Linked DNA regions of Homo sapiens: region 2 is linked to region 1. The links come from fine-mapping of genetic effects on gene expression. A gene starts in region 1. The other region holds a variant in brackets. All regions are shown on one strand. Distances are between the middles of the regions.

Region 1 (5,371 bases):
TAGTATGTACTGTTCTGCAATTTGCTTTTTTCATTAATAGTACATCTTGGTGATCTTTTTCTGTCTCAGTATGTATAGATCTGCTTCATTCTTTTGAACTGCTGCCTAATATTCCAGAAGACAGATGCACCAGAGTTTATTTAGCCATTCCCTGTTGATGGCTGTTAGGCTGTTTTCTACTTCAGAATGACCAAAATTGCAATGAACATCCTTATACATGCTGAGCTCACGGATGCCTGCTTCTTTGGGTGACATACTGAGAAATGGAATGGTGAGTCACAGAATGTGTGCATTATTAATTTTATAGTGCCAAACTGCTCTTCCAATTGGTTATATCAATTTACACACCAGTCAGCAGTATATGAAAGTACCTGTTTTCCCACTAGCTTGCCAAAATCACTTTTTACCTTGTTTTACCTGCATGTATATTTTATCTCCTAGGCTTGGGGTTGTAAGCTTTATGAGAGAAGGGCCCAATGACTTCCTTATATTTCATTTCTTTCCCTATCTAGAGGTGTTTAAGAATTGGTGTATACTCAGGAGGCTGAGATGGGAGGACCCCTTGAACCCAGGATTTCGAGACCAGTCTGAGCAATATAGCGAGACCCCCATCTCAAAACAACAACAAAACAAACAACAAAAGACTTGGTGCTCAATAAGTGTTTGTTGAATGATCTCTAACCACAAGTTCTTTGTTAATCTCTGTGCAATATACTTTCCATTTACCAAGACTGCATCTAACTTGGAGGTTATTTCTTAAGGTTGAAAAACATTCTTAAGAAAGTTGGCTGAATTTTTGCACATCCCTCCCCGGTAACAAGTTACAGATACCTTTCATTTAAAGTTGCCTAAGACAGGACTCACCTCCTGTTCTGCTGGCAGGAGGCAGTGAAAACAGATGTGGTTGTCTCAGACAATAGCTAGCAGGGTGTCCCACCCACTGGGAAATGGCAGACCAGAGGCGCTTTAAAAATCCTGGGAACCAGACAGAAGATGGAATGGTGAGGGAGTAGGGTCAGAATCACAGGGACACTCCGGATTCAAGGAGGTAAATTCTTTTACGCAGTTTTGATATAGAGGAAACCACTAATAATGTGTAAAGTCTGACAATTAATGGATCCAGGTGAGGTGTAACTGTGGTAGGATAGGAAAAACCAGAGAAGAGGAGAACTGGGCATGTTTTAAAAGGAAATTTGGCTACAGGAAAGAGGGGTTATGAAGATGTGAATTATGCGACTCAAGATAAACTTTTCCGCCGGGCAGTGCCTCTATTTATTTATATGTAATTTTAGGCTAAAACAATTCTAAAAATCACCAGTATGTTTCCAAATCTTGGAGCTCTTAACATTTAGTTTGAAAATAAAAAGTGTGTTAAAACGGATTGAGAATTATGTGTAGCTTAGTTTGTGGTTCAAAACAACACACACGAAGACACGTTCTCGCTCTTAATAATGTTTTCTTTTTCTCTCACCTATTGAACCGTTTCAGTAGCAACTGTGCAGCCCAGTGAGGTGACAATTGGATTTCAAAACAAACACAAATGAGCAAAGTGAGGAAACCATTTGCCGCGGTGGACTAATGGCCCCTAGGGGATCCTGGGGTCTGTGGGGCTTAGAACTGGGCCCTTGTTTTGAATTCCTCTGAGGTGGACAGAAGCTGGAAGGACACCTCAGTTCCAGCGTGGCTGTGACAGGGTAACTGCCCTTAAAATCAGGGCAGCGGAGCCACGGTTCCCATCGCGTCCCCTCAAACACTCAGGGCCCCGCACTTTGGTTTCTCAGCCCATTTCTTCTCGCGCCTTTCATCCCTTCACTCATCCAGGGCCGTTGCCAAAAAACCCTGGCAAGGACCAGGCCTCAGTCAGGCCCACGGTGGTCCACTGCACGCGACGGGAAACTCCTGGAGGAAGCTCGTTTGGCCCTTGGGGAACCAATGCCCCTTTGGCCATTGTTGTAAGGAACAAAGAGGGCAAGAACTGAGGGCGCCCCCCCAAGGAAAGGCGGGGGAGGACACCCACGGGCGATCCGGGGGGCTGGCCGGGCTGGGGCTGAGGTGCGCCGGGGCTGGAGGCTGGGAGCCGGGGGAGGCAGGGCTGGTCCCCAACCGCCGCGCCCCGCGAGCGATACGCACGGCGTCCGGCGCCCGGCAGAGCCCTTTCCTGCGCCGCAGCCAGTTTACTTTTATTCCCTTTTTCGATATTTTTATTATTATTATTTTTTCCCGCGCAAAGCGGGAGCCAGACTGCCCAGGCGAGCCACGGCCGGGCCGCCATTTCCCGGTGAAAGCGCAGCGCGCGTCGGCACCGGGCGCCCCGGAAAGGGAACCGAAGGGGAGTGCCCGGCCTCGCGCCCTCTTCCGCGCCGGCCCCGGGGCGCACGCCCGCCCGCGGCGCCCGGGTGTCCGCGCAGCAACCCCCAGCCCTCGCCCCGCCACCCGGCGTCCCCGACCTGACCTTCCCCGGCGCGGCCCGCCCCCGGACTCGGGTCCCTAACCTCCGCCCGGCTGCTCCGCGCCCCCTCCATTGTCAGCCTGGAGCCGCCGGCGCCCTGCCCGGGCACCTTCAGAGGCCCCCGAGCGGCCCTCCCCGGGCTCCCTCGGGCCCTGCGCAGCCCCCCACCCATCGCCCCGTGCCCATCGGCGGCCGGGCGCCTCCGTCCTCCCGCTCCTGCGCCCGAAACTCCGCATTCCCAGGAGACCTCCGCTTCCTCCGGGTCCAGCCTCGCCTGGGGCCCGCTGCTGAACCTCGCATCCCTCCTCCTTCCCCTCTCAGTACCCTCGACGCCCCCGGCCCCTCGCTGGCCGCAGGAATTTGACCACTTCTTTAGCAGCCCCCCCTTTATCGCCCAAGGAAGCAAGTTGGGCAGCTGGATTTAAGAATTTGTTTTTGCAGAGGGTGGGTCGGCTATCGAGGGTGCGCCCGCAGGGGCTCGGGGGAGAGGCAGAGGTGGTTCTCTCCGGCCCCTGCACTGCCCCGGCGGCGCGTTTTGTTTCCAGACCCCGGAGCACCCTAAACAATAATGCCATCGCCATGGCGGGCTCACCTGGTGCTGCGCCGCCTGCTCCCGGCGCCCGGTGCCCTCTGCGCGCCCCTCCACGGGCGCAGGTTTGGCCCACGCGGCGCCGGTGCCGGGCAGGACTCTTTGCCTTTCTTTGGGTTCTATCTGTGCGTGTCAATGGCGGCAAGCGGCAGTTCTCTGGGCCGCGGATAGTAGCGGGGGGAGGAGGAGGAGGGAGAAGGGATTGCTCCTTCTCCACATAACCACCTCTAGGAGGAGTTGCTCAGCCTCATCCCCCGCCAGCCCAGGCTCCGCGACGGGTCCGGGGCTTTCGGTGGGGCTTGATGAGCTATTGTCCTTCAGGAGTATTAATGGTGAAACCGCGCGGCCTCCGCGTACTTGGCCGATCTGCGAGACGAGCCGAGGGCCACTCGCTAACATGAGGCTTTCCCCAGAACTGGGCACAAACGCGCTATGGTCGCGATCCAGTCTCCTGTTAGCTGGATCCACCTTTGGTGGGAGAAGGTGGCGTGGGCGTTCATCTGGCAGCTCTGGGGAGAGTCTTCGAAGGGGAAAGCGAAAAATGCCACCTTCTATATTTTTGTGTCCTTAAATAATAACAAGTACATTAACGTTTGTGTCCACCACTGGGAAGAGTGCATAGGGCGGCCACAGCCACGAGAGCTGAGAATTTATATCCGTGCCTGTAGGCTTTTTAGAAATTAAGACCGATTTAGAATCCAGCGTTGCATAATATTTGGAGAGGCAGATGTATGTTTTGGTGGGTGAGACTGTGTGTATGGGCATAATTTTTAATTGGGTTGCTTTACAAGGTGTTAATTTGCAATATCCCAACGGGTATTTAGATGAGCGCGAGGCTATTGTCTTCAGGACCAGTTTTTATTAGTTACTAGAAAATGCATCTTTATGGGGGTGTGGTGGACACTGTCGGGTGTGATAATGGGGATTAGCAGTTGCTGTGTTCCTAGTGGAAGCCAGTCTCGGCTTTGTATTGTGAGTTGTTGGCCAGGGCTCCATGGCTGGAGGGGAGTCAAAAGAATGTGTTTATTTCAGTGGGAAATACTAACTTGCTGTGGACCATCCAGGTTTCCTCTGATTTCTCCTACAGTCAAAGGACTGTGAGAGGCAACATTTTGATCCCTTCCAAAAAGAGAAACCGGTGCAAACAGAATTCTCCAGCCTTGGCCAAATGGCTGATTTTTAAAGCTGTTACATTTGGTAATATTGTGTATATTTGCTACTACAAACTTGTAACTATTTAGGCAGTGGGGACTTTGGAGTGACTGAAAGCCTCCCAGTGCCTGAGTGGGAAGAACTCATGCCTACCACCCTCTGCGTCTCTACTAGTTAGTTAATCATGGCTATTGCTGGCGTTTATAGATAGCGGGTTAGGTTTAGAACATGTGCATTTTAAAGTGTATTTGCTGAGAAATCAGCCATGTTTCTCTCTGACTTCCTCCAAATCACGCATATATCATCAACATATGCATAAGCCTCTATTTCAGTCTCCTATGGCTTCTCAAACTCCCCTGGACTCAACAGTCTCTGTTTCTTGGGGCTTCCTTTACTCTTTTCCTAAGCCTTTCACGCCCTCTGTGTATGACCTCACTGTTCTTTGTCTTGGAAGGTATTTTCCAGGTCAGATATCCAGTCAGGATAAAGTCTTCTTTCCCCAAGATGTATATTTAAAGGGTTTCAAATGATCCCCTGGGGCATCCCATAATGATGTCCTTTCCCATTCCTAAAGAAAGGGTCTCTCTTCTTATACCTTCAGGTGTCCATTCTTCACCAGAAATAACCATCAAGCCAACATTCAAGAGAGTTCAGGAGTTTTCTATGAGTGCTTGAAAAATACTCATACTCTGTCATCCAGTCAGCCAGGCTGACTGAAATATAGTTGAATAATTCATCAGTAGATATTAGATTCACATTCTCCTTGTAATTTCCCAATAAAAGTGGCATATGTGGTCATTTTTATGTGAATTTTATATAACAGTTCATTCTAGCATTTTGTTATGTGCTATCCTGAGAGAGGCTGGATCTAGTAAATTTACTGGTTAGGATTCTCCCATTTCATACTGGTTGGTTTCTTCAGACAGATGATGCTGTCACAACTCAGAAAATCAAGGAAGAGGTCAGCTTCAAAATACTCTGATTCTTAGGATAAAAGGGTTCTTAGAGTTCACCTAGTGGAAACCTTTGCTATAGGAAGAAATCTGGTATTTGGAAGGGTGAAATGACTCAGCCATGGCCTCGCAGGACATTAGTGGGAGATCCTCCAATGCATGTCCAGATACCCAGTCAATGCAGTTTCCGCCAATTCCAAACTTTTCAGGATGTATAGGGGACAAATA
Region 2 (5,371 bases), 100 kb after region 1:
ACCGTCGGTCTCCTTTGTTGGTAGCAACCATGCAGCTCCTTTAGCCTCAAGATGTTCGTGTTCTGCCCTTGGTGATAGAAACTTTCCTGAGTTTTCTTGGGCCCTCATATCCTCTCCTTGCTGGCATACCCTATGGGGAATCTAGAAATCTAGAGACCCAGTGGGGAAGGCGAGGCTGGGCCAAGGGCAAAGGTCTGGTTCTCAGCCCAAGTCTGCTAGACTGGCAGGGCAGACAAGGAGATGGACATGGGGCTTCAGGAGACCCGGAGCAAGTGCTCAGTCCTGAGGGAGCTTGTGGAATGAGAGTCCTCTGCTGCCCTGGTCTGACGTCATCCACCCACGCCAGGGGCTGAAACCTCTCATCACCTGGCATTCAGCAGAAATTGGTCCCAATATGGAGGGCTTAGGAAGTCTGGTTATCTTGTAGTAAAAGTCATGAGCAATAGCTACCCCTGCCCCTCAAGCCCATAATAACACAGAGGAGGAGGCAGAGTGAGAAACAAGGGGAAGACACTTCCCCAGTAAAATTAATAGAAAATTGACACATTGATATGGGATGTTATGGAAGAAAATGCCATTTTACATGGAGAGTCAAATCAGGGTGACCTTCATTTTCCCCTCTGGGTTGGGGAGGGGATTGCAGGGGGAGGAGGTGCATTCCACAGTTTCAGGGTGACCCTGTGCCCCTTCCCCAGCCTGCCACGGTGCGGTATGACACACGTCACATGGATGCCGGGAGGGAGAGGAGCCTCTGTGGGCCAGAGCGGCATTCCCATTGGTGTGTGGATGGTGGCAGGGGGATATGGAGGGCAGGGCAGGCAGAGAATGAAAAGTAATGTATGGTGAGGAACAGAGAGGCCAAGGCAGCTGCTGGCAGAACTAAAGGTGCCCAGATTGTGGGAGGGGATTGTGGCTGAGGGAAGACCTGGCCAGTGCTCAAGGGAGCCCCTGCGGGCCAGAGCGGCATTCCCATTGGTGCGTGGATGGTGGAAGTCCTGGTTGAGAAAGGTGGCTGTGCAGTCTGCAAGCGCAGGGTTTGGCAGGACCAGCAGGGACAGGAAGCATGCTACCCGCCTGCTTGCTCTGCACTCTCCTTTTGTTGCCTATGCTCCTCCTAAAAAGTCCCTACTGCCCTTCAAGGGGCTCTACGACCACCTTTCAGGGTCACACAGCATAATTTCTTGTATCTTTTTCTCTTTTGTTCAAAGAGAATTCCTGTGTGACCCCAGGGCGGGGATGTGAGACCCCAAATTCTCTTATTACTGGTATGATAAAATAGCTCTTGAACTCCAAACCTATTGGGGAAATTTGGGGAGAGCTGTAACCCCTTGAGCCTTGGAGTGAAGTGTTCCCTTCAGCTTCTTTTGCAGTAAGAGGATCAGCGTGGAGGCCTAGACTGTCCATGCCTAGAGAGGGACTGGGCAGGCGGGAATAAACTGCTACCACTTCGCCTGGGACGTGCTTGGAAGAGAGGTCCTTAGCTGTCTCCCTGCCTCCTCCTTAACTACATTCTTGACCTTTCCGTCTCTCCCAGACTCTTCAGTAAGAAGCCATCTGATCATGAAAGAAAGGGACGAGGAAGGGTCTGGTAATGTCTTTGGAGATTTAAGCAAGAAGGACAAACCCTTTAGGATCCGAAAACCTAATCCTGGACCATCCCCTAGTTCTGATGGTGTCACCTGGGCAGCGACCCACGATCCAACCTGGAAGAATAGGCAGGTGGCCCCTCCTCCAGCTCACTTCTAGAGCTTCTCAGTCTACTCTGTAATCATGCCCTTCTGTCCCCCAAATCATGTGATGGAGGAGCAGGGGATACAGGGCTGATCAGGCATCTCATTCACATGTTTCGCTAGGTGCTCAGCCAGTGATTCTGAACTAACTTCACTGCCTGAAGGAAAAGAAGTGAGTCATGGTTCTGAAAACCAGTCCAGAGAATCCACTTTCCTAGCTGGTATCTGGTGGCAGCTTTGTCTAGAATCAGCTTGGAGATGAGTATCAGAGGCAGCCAAAACCAACTTCAGGGTGGGAGAGCTGGCTGGCATCAAGTGGCTGTGCTTTAGAGGTAGCTGCAGCAGGAAGCCAGGAAACATCCCAGTAAACTTTGCATGCAAGAGGGTGGCATGACTGGGAGCCCCCAGAGTACTAGCCTAGGCGGGGTGACCCTTGGC[A/G]TTTACAGAATGAAGAAGTGGGAAGTGGAGCCTGGGGGGGATGGAGGAGGAGTGTGGAGGGTGGCTGGGGAGAAACCCAGTATGAATCACACACATGGGGAAGCCCAAATCGGCCATGCAGGCAAGCAAGGGCAATGCCATACCAATGGGCATGGGGCATCCAGTCCGTCCAGCCCTGGTAACCCCGGCTCCCCTTTCTCTCCTTTAAAACCTCGGTGTCCCTGTTCACAAAACCAACCACGATGATTATTCAGGTCAAGGCTGGCCAGCTCCAACCATGGAATAGAGAGGCCCAGTCCTACCCTGGCCAGGATGCAGGACCCTTGAGGCATCTACAAACAGGGGCTAAATCCCAGGTGATCCCCCATCTCCCAAATCCAGCTTTTGTGCTCTCTTTGTGCTCTGGAGAGTTCAGCTTTGCACACATACAACCTGCCCCCTCTCCGTTGATCCTCCTCTCTCTACAGACTCACTTAGTGTAAACACAGACAAACTTCAACTTTAGTGCATCATAATTTTTAGAACCTTCAAATGGATTCAAAGGCACTTGAGAAACCCAGCAGAAGTGCCTCATCATTAATTGCTGGCTCTTTTGAGAAGGCTTCCCATGGGGTGTCTGTCTGACTACCAGTTCTGGTCTGCAGCTTTAAAGGTTTCAGCTGGATGGCTGGTGAGTGTTGGGAGGCTGTGCATTAGAAGCCCCTCATCTGGCCTTGTTCTGCCCAGTTTTGAGCATCAGTGGCCCTGAGGAGACGCTAACTCTGGTGTCCTGCATCCTGATCAAGTGAGGATTCAGACAGCTTGAACTACTGGCCCACAGAGGTGGCCATGAAACGAAGAAGGCAAATCCGTGGCTCACAAATGCTACACTGGCTTCCAAAGCCATCCTGGAGCTAAGAGCTGAGGCCTTCCCTGAAAATCCCTTTCCTAGTGGTTTCCTCACTTCCACACATCGATTGCTCTGTATCTTCAAAGGAAAAGGATTCAAAGGCAAGGGATTTAGCCAGAATTACTTGCAGCTGTGGTTACAAAGCAAATCCAACAGCGGGCAGAATTTCACCAGTCAAATGAACAGAGAGATTTTGGTAGCATCCGTGTAGACATTTGGTTCTCATCTTAGTTTATTTGCCTTCTTTGTTTCCAACTTACAAACCTCAAGAACAAAAACCAGAACAATGCAAGTGATAAACAAAAACATACCAATGGGCAGGGGGCATCTAATCCAGGCGCTCCTTGGTCTCCCTTATCCCCTTTAGGCCCTCTAGAGCCTTTCTTCCCCCTCTCCCCCTGTAAATAATGGTTTAGTCCGAGAAAAAAACATCAAAACTTTAAGATCATTCATGTGTTAAGGTTGAAGACAGAAAAAGAAAAATAAAATTAAAAAGGGAAAAAGAGATGCTTTAAATTAGGATATTCTCCCCAGTAGGATTTGGAGTCAATACCCACCTCCTCCCCACCCCCCAGGAACCTGAGAATTTGGCTAAGGTGGGTGGGAGGGGGAGGGGAGGACAGGCAGAGGGCTCAGAGCTGCAGGTGCAGGGAACCACAGACTGAAGATTTTGGTGGCCGGTTTTGCTAATACTAAGCCCAGCGTGGGTCTGTGCTGAACACAGTGGCTAGGGACCAACTTCCTTCTCTTTGAGTCTGTTTTTGAAAGGCTTTGGGGTGAAAACTTTTTTTTTCCCCAATTAATGTTTATCCTTTTGACATTCTATTAGGAGGCAAGGTGATTTTGCTTGGAGCCCTGGGATGTGTGTGAACATAGCATGTATGAGTGTATGCATATATGTGCTTGTGCACATGTGTGTATATGTATGTATGAGTATACAGGTATGTGCTTGTGTATATGTGTGTGTGTGCCCACGTTTGAGTGTGTGTGGGTATGTGCTTGGGCACGTGAACACATGTGTGTGCCTTTATTATGCATGTGTGTCCATGTGCACATATGTATGTGTGTGTCCAGAGCTCACGGATGGCCCCTTGTGCTCAGCTGGCTTCTCCTGTTCTATCTGTGTCTCTGGTTCATCCTGGTCTGAAGTCAGACCGTTATTTGTATATGAATATGTTGGTTTAAGGAATTCATTTGTTTCTGAAAAGCTACAGTAAACATCATTTTTCTAAATTGAATCCTATATTGTATGTGTCAGAGTCTATTTAAAGAAGGGCTGTGGGGAATTCTTTTTAAAAGTGAAGCATCACTTCTGTAATGAATTTGCATTTGCATTTTTATATGTGTTTCCTAAAAAGGGGGCTCAGTATGCCCCTAGGGAGTCTTCCTGGGAGCTCCCCTCCTCTATGGAAGGGGGATTATCTAACGCTTGGGGACTTCAACTGTGTCACTCCAGGGTGACACTGAATGCTGGGCAGCGTATTAGAACAAAGGCTTGCAGTCAGAGTTGGTTCTGACAGTTAGCTGCGTGACTTTGTGAAGTTACTTCTTTGAGCCTTAGTTTCTTTACCTGTAAAATGAGTACAATAATACCTGCCTCAAAAATTTGTTGTGAGGCTGGGCATGGTGGCTCATGTCTGTAATCCCAGCATTTTGGGAGGCCAAGGCAGGAGGGTCACTTGAGGCCAGGAGTTCGAGGCCAGCCTGGACAATAAAGCAAGACCTCATTTTTGCAAAGAATAAAAAAATTAGTCGGGTGTGGTGGCATGTCCCTGTAGTCCTAGCTACTCAGGAGTTTGAGGCAGAAAGATCACTTGAGCCAAGGACAAGAGTTTGAGGCAGCAGTCAACCATGATTGCACCACTACACTTCAGCCTGGGCAACAAAGCAAGACCCTGTCTGAAAAAAAAATGTTGTGAGTTCTTTGTGCACATTAAATGCTTAATAATGGAATATAGTATGTGCACAGTAAACGATAGCTGCTTCATAATGATAATAATGGTCATTATTTCTTTTTAGCCAGTATAGGAGCCAAAGGTTGGGGTCAGAGGTTGTCATGTGCACTGTTCCTGCAGTGGAAGGCTGCAGGGTAGATGTTCATTAGAGGAAGGCAGAGGATAAGAATATTTTTGGCTGGGCACAGTGGCTCATGTCTGTAATCCCAGCACTTTGGGAGGCGGAGGCGGGCGGATCACTGGAGGTCAGGAGTTCGAGACCAGCCTGGCCAACATGGCAAAACCCCATCTCTACTAAAAATACAAAAATTAGCCTGGTGTGGTGGCACTAGCCTGTAATCCTAGCTACTCGGGAGGCT

Alleles and levels. Positions count from the first base shown, and alleles are read on the strand shown. Sizes are in standard deviations (SD) of each study's normalised expression.
For the expression in macrophages of the gene that starts at base 3,196 in region 1, G is the low allele of the variant in region 2 and A is the other (moderate effect, 0.69 SD a copy in Nedelec 2016).

What was found. PIP is the estimated chance that this variant, and not a neighbour inherited with it, causes the effect.
Region 2: its variant is fine-mapped to the expression of MACROH2A2 in macrophages (Nedelec 2016, PIP 0.95). The same link has a PIP of 0.9 or more in monocytes after LPS.

Annotation. Positions count from the first base shown.
Region 1 is chr10:70,050,671-70,056,041 of GRCh38, reverse strand. It overlaps MACROH2A2 (macroH2A.2 histone), which reads right to left and starts at 3,196. Exons shown (of 9, transcript NM_018649.3): 1 at 3,042-3,196.
Region 2 is chr10:69,950,966-69,956,336 of GRCh38, reverse strand. It overlaps COL13A1 (collagen type XIII alpha 1 chain), which reads right to left. Exons shown (of 41, transcript NM_001368882.1): 39 at 3,369-3,455. It overlaps LOC107984242 (a long non-coding RNA gene), which reads left to right. Exons shown (of 4, transcript XR_007062181.1): 4 at 1,359-1,442. Among named protein-coding and RNA genes, the nearest start is that of LINC02636, 56 kb to the left of the region's middle. The variant A/G (reference allele first, on the strand shown) is at 2,169.